Regions from separate parts of the Homo sapiens genome. Here region 1 is linked to region 2. Evidence: fine-mapped expression QTL. Tissue or cell type: whole blood. Region 2 holds a variant in brackets; the other region holds the start of a gene. Each region is shown on its reference strand, or each on the opposite one. Region 1 holds the start of APRT (adenine phosphoribosyltransferase). Region 2 overlaps LOC107986449 (a long non-coding RNA gene).

What was found. PIP is the estimated chance that this variant, and not a neighbour inherited with it, causes the effect.
Region 1: APRT starts here. The variant in region 2 is fine-mapped to the expression of APRT in whole blood (TOPMed, PIP above 0.99).

The regions. Positions count from the first base shown.
Region 1 is chr16:88,810,366-88,813,227 of GRCh38, reverse strand. APRT (adenine phosphoribosyltransferase) reads left to right here and starts at 1,300. Exons shown (of 5, transcript NM_000485.3): 1 at 1,300-1,408; 2 at 1,572-1,678; 3 at 2,672-2,805. The coding sequence starts at 1,329. RefSeq lists enhancers at 1-240, 241-925, 2,431-2,862 and silencers at 638-897, 1,148-1,547.
Region 2 is chr5:130,839,529-130,842,436 of GRCh38, reverse strand. The region is part of intron 1 of LOC107986449 (a long non-coding RNA gene); the gene reads left to right. Among named protein-coding and RNA genes, the nearest start is that of HINT1, 320 kb to the left of the region's middle. The variant TG/G (reference allele first, on the strand shown) is at 1,282.

The DNA.
Region 1 (2,862 bases), not on the chromosome of region 2:
ACTGCGAGGCAGCCGCCCCTACCACGCCCCTTGGCATCAGACGATGGGTCCCCCACCCGCCCTGGAACCGGGGCCCCAGCAGCCGCATGCAGCCTCCGGCCTCCCCCTCCGAAGGCTCCTGGGGGCTGCCTTCCACTGAGTGGGTTTTCCCTTCTGCAGTAACTGCCAGGCCAAAGCTGAATTGTAAAAGTTGCGAAATGATGGGCCGGGCGCGGTGGCTCACGCCTGTAATCCCGGCACTTTGGGAGGCCGAAGCGGGCAGATCACGGGGTCAGGAGATCGAGACCATCCTGGCTAACACAGTGAAACTGCGTCTCTACTAAAAATACAAAAAATTAGCAGGGCGTGGTGGCGGGCTCCTGTAGTCCCAGCTACTCGGGAGGCTGAGGCGGGAGAATGGCCGGAACCCAGGAGGTGGAGCTTGCAGTGAGCCCAGATGGCGCCACTGTGCTCCATCCTGGGCGACAGAGCGAGAGTCCTTCTCAAAAAAAAGTTGCGAAATGAAGAAAAGTCTTGGAATAGAGCACAAGGCATTTTAGCTCTGGGGATTTTCTTGAAAGGAAATTGTGTTTGGGGGGAGTTATGCCTCACACAACCCCCTGGGTACCAGTCCTCGGGCGGCCAGGGGGTTCACAGCTCCCCACCCCAAGGCTAAGGGGTCACCTGGCCTCTGCAGGCGGACAGAAGGGCTTCTGCCCTCGCGGATGCGCGCCCTGGCCTGGCCACACCTTCCGGCCTCCCTCCCCCGGGTCCGGGCGGGGAAGAGCCGCCTCAACGGCAGGGCCCATCCGCGAGAGGCCAGCGCCCCCGGCCGGTCCAGCCCAGGCCCGCCGCCTCCGCCCTGGGCTGCTCCCTCCGGGCCCTGCACCGCCCTCCTGCTACTTGGACCGCTTCCTCACGCCCTTCTCCACCCCGCGCGCCAGCCTCCCGCGCGCAGCGTGGGGATCTCGGCCAATAAAGGAGAAAGGGCGCGGCCCGTACGCGCGCCAGGTGCGTGGGCGAGACCAGCTCACGCCCCTCCTCCAGCCGCCAAGGCCCCGGCCCACAGCTGCCTGGCTGCAGTCAGAAGCGTAGCCCGAGACAAGGAAGGGCGCCTTGACTCGCACTTTTGTCCGGTTCGAACGTTCTGCTCAGTGGTGCGTGGAATGCGAGCGCGTCTTAAAATCGATGGCGCCTAGGAGTCCATGAAATACGGTACAGGCTTCCGGCGACGGATGCCCCGCCCCTCACCCACGCTCCGCCCTCCGGGGATGCCCCACCCCTCGTGGCGGTCCCGCCCGTCCCCGCGCAGGCGCGCTCGGGCTGCCGCTGGCTCTTCGCACGCGGCCATGGCCGACTCCGAGCTGCAGCTGGTTGAGCAGCGGATCCGCAGCTTCCCCGACTTCCCCACCCCAGGCGTGGTATTCAGGTGCACGCACAGGCCGCCCTCGTGGCGCCCCGACCTGCGGGCCTACGGATGGGAGCGCGTGGCCCGCGACCTCCGGGCGGGCGGGGCGGGAACCCTCGTCTTTCGCCCCCGGGGCCCTGCCCTCCTTCGGCCCCGGCGTCACCAGGCCTGTCCTTGGGTCCAGGGACATCTCGCCCGTCCTGAAGGACCCCGCCTCCTTCCGCGCCGCCATCGGCCTCCTGGCGCGACACCTGAAGGCGACCCACGGGGGCCGCATCGACTACATCGCAGGCGAGTGCCCAGTGGCCGCATCTAGGGCGCTTCCGCCTCTGCGCGCGCCGAGGGCAGCACGTGGGCTCTGCGCGTCTGCTTGGGGGAGGGCCTTTGGGGTGCTTCAGGGGGCGCCGGGACGGGCGCCGTGCTTGGGTCGCCCGGGAAGGGTTGTGAGATTGAGCCCCCGAGGCCGCCGCGCTGTGCAGGCGTCCTTCCCGCAGGTTCCGGGTCCCCAGCCCAGGACAGGCGTGACCGAGTTGCCGGGTCAGTTGGTCTCCCTGGAGTGCCCAAGCTGAATCCACAGGGCCCAGCTGCCTTGCTTCTTGTTCCTTCTGCGAGCTGGTATTGAGCGCCTGCCACGAGCCAGGCCTTCCCTGGTGAAGATCACGGAATGCCCACCCAGGGAAGGGAGGCCTGGAGGCCTCCGGGAGAGCCCAAGAGGTGGCCCAGGGAGAACAGAGTGTTCCTGGCCGTCTTGCCTCTCCTAGGGTGTGACAGCCCACTCCCTGGACACTGCCCTGAGGAAAGCGCCAGCTCTTGCTGGAGCCACAACACTGCCAGAGCTCCCTTCTCACCTCCTGCAGGAAGCCCTCCCTGACCTCCTGCCAGGCCGGGGCAGGGTTTCCCTGAGCGTCCCCCAACCATCACAGCTCAGGCCACCTCGAGAGACTCCCTTTTTAGACAGAAGCCCTGGTGCAGAGCTGCCTTTGAGAGTAAGCTGAGGCCTGTCAGGTTTCTACCAGCCCAGTTACAGATGGGCTGCTCAGCTCAGAGAGAGGGGTGGTGACTCCCCTAGGAACACACAGCTAAGAAGTGGTCCCTTAAAAGACAGACCCAGGTCTGCACTCTGACCTGGAAGCAGCTCCGGGTAGGTGATGGGTAACATTCCTTAAATGGTGCATGTCACTGGCCTTTCAGCTGGGAGCCAACCAGGTACCCCTTGCCACCGGCCAACCCTGGCCCCTGGGGATTCCCATGCTGCCGAGTCACTCCTGTCACTTACCCTGACAGGCCTAGACTCCCGAGGCTTCCTCTTTGGCCCCTCCCTGGCCCAGGAGCTTGGACTGGGCTGCGTGCTCATCCGAAAGCGGGGGAAGCTGCCAGGCCCCACTCTGTGGGCCTCCTATTCCCTGGAGTACGGGAAGGTAAGAGGGCTGGGGTGGCCAGAGGAAGGGCAGGGCCAGGCCACCGTGGCCACTCTC
Region 2 (2,908 bases):
GAAACTGGACCCCTTCCATATACCTTATAAAAATTAACTCAAGATGGATCAAAGACTTAAGTGTAAAACCCAAAACCATCAAAACCCTAGAAGAAAACCTAGGCAATACCATTCAGGACATAGACATGGGCAAAGACTTCATGATAAAACACGAAAAGCAATTGCAACAAAAGCAAAAATTGACAAATGGGATCTAATTAAACTAAAGAGCTTCTGCACAGCAAAAGAAACTATCATCAGAGTGAACAGGCAACCTACAGAATGGGAGAAATTTTTGCAATCTACCTGTCTGACAAAGGTCTAATATCTAGAATCTACAAGGAACTTAAATTTACAATAAGAGACAAACAACCCCCTCAAAAAGTGGGCGAAGGATATGAATGGACACTTATCAAATGAAGACATTTACACAGCCAACAAATATATGAATAAAAGCTCATCATCACTGATCATTAGAAAAATGCAAGTCAAAACCACAATGAGATACCGTCTCATGCCAGTTAGCATGGCAATTATTAAAAAGTCAGGAAACAATAGATGCTGGCAAGGCTGTAGAGAAATAGGAACGCTTTTACATTGTTGGTGGGAGTGTAAATTAGTTCAACCATTATGGAAGACATTGTGGTGATTCCTCAAGGATCTAGAACCAAGGAAATACCATTTGACCCAGCAATCCCATTACTGGGTATATACCCAAAGGATTATAAATCATTCTACTATAAAGACACATGCATACGTATGTTTATTGCAACACTATTTACAATAGCAAAGACTTGGAACCAACCCAAATTCCCGTCAATGATAGACTGGATAGAGAAAATGTGGCATATGTACACCATGGAATACTATGCAGCCATACAAAAGAATGAGATTATGTCCTTTGCAAGGACATGGGTGAAGCTGGAAGCCATCATCCTCAGCAAACTACACAGGAATAGAAGACCAAATACCACATGTTCTCACTCATAAGTGGGAGTTGAACAATGTGAACACATGGACACAGGGAGGGGAACAACATACACTGGAGCCTGTTGGGGAGTGGGGGGCAAGGGGAGGGAGAGCATTAGAACAAATACCTAATGCATGTGGGGCTTAGAACCTAGATGATGGGTTGATAGGTGCAACAAACCACCATGGCACATGTATACCTGTGTAACAAACCTGCACATTCTGCACATGTATCCCAGAACTTAAAAGAAAAAACAAACAAACAAACAAACAAAATAATGCCTCCAGTTCCATTCAGGTTGCTGCAAAACACATTATTTTATTCTTTTTTTT[TG/G]TGGCTGAAGAGTATTCCATGGCATATATACCACATTTTCTTTATCCACTCTTTGATTTATGGGCACTTAGGTTGATTTCATGTTTTGCAATTGTGAATTGTGCTGTGATAAACATATGTCATCACCTACTTAAAGGCACCTACAATTCTGTCACTCACTGGGCCATTTTTTATGCTAGGCTGTGGCACTGAGGGATCTAGCAACATCCAGCATGATGTGGTTGCAGAAATAATGGATAAGTTAGGTGCCTGTGCCCATGAGCCTAAGCAACCTCACAGAGTCTCTCCCACTGTGCATGCCAACCCCCCATGCCAGTTTTCTAAAACTTTTGACCTCAGCTGCACTTGAGATATATTCACATTCCATCTTATTTATTTCATTTATGTTAGTGTCTCAGGGAATTGGTGGTCATGATGGTGGGGGAGGAGGGGATGACAGGCTGCCATCTTTTTGAAATCCCTTGTGGGTCATTCTTGGCTTCTTATTCTTTTTCCATCAAATTTTGACTCCATCATTACGTTCTGTTGATTTTATCTTGAAGTCATCCCTTAATCTTGGACCTACTCCCTAAGATCCCATTCATACTGCCACTCTACTAATAGATATCCCTAAATGACCCTATCATGTCTCTCCCACATTGTTGCCGCAGCCTCCAAATTAGCACCCCCACTTCTGGGTCTATCTGCTTGTCACAGCAATGTATTCTACATATTGTAGCCAGAAAACTCTTTGTAAATTGCAAATCTGGTCACATAACTTGTTTTCAAGAAATCTTCTTGTAGCACCCCGAATAATAAAGTTCATATTCCTTATGTGGCTTACAGATGCCCCAGTAATCCAGCCCCTGGCAAGCTCTCTAGTCTTATCTTCAGATACTTCTTACTGTCATTCACTTTGGGCTTCAGCCATGCGCTTAGACCTTTTTATAAGCTGTTCCCTTTGTCGTTAATTACCTTATCCTCACTTGTGCACCCATCTGGAGCTTACTTTTTCTTTATGTCTAAACTTAGACTCAATTTCCAGACCTCCTGAGACAGGATCAGTGCCACCCTATATGCGTCCATAAGTGCTTATCAGACTGCCTTGTTAACGCCTGTTCGTTGACTGCATCTCTTTCCTGACTGTGAGATCCGGGGGATCAGGCATCATGCGGGTATTCATTATCATTAAGTTCTTACAGAGAATAGTAGATAAAAATCCAGTAATTTAGACTCTCCTTTTTTTCAATGACACAAAATGTAAGAGAAAATTTGTCTTTTTTTTTACATAAGCATCGTGTATTTAATAAAAAACTTTTGCCCATGAGGGCTGTTAGAAATTGAAACATGTTTTTTGGAGAATTGGTATGTTAACTTCTGTCTTATGTCTTTTATATTACATGTTATTAAAACAGCAATTAGATGCCACTATACCTCAGAATAGCTAAAAATAAGATTGATAATACTACATACTGGTGAAGGTGTGGAACTACTGTAACTTTCATACATTGTTGATGGCATGCAAATTGGTACAGTTGCTTTAGAAAACTGTTTGACTTATCTACTAAAATTGAATATTTGCATACTTATTAGTCATTCTCATGTACTCCAGAAGACATGATGATAATGTTCACAGAAACATTATTT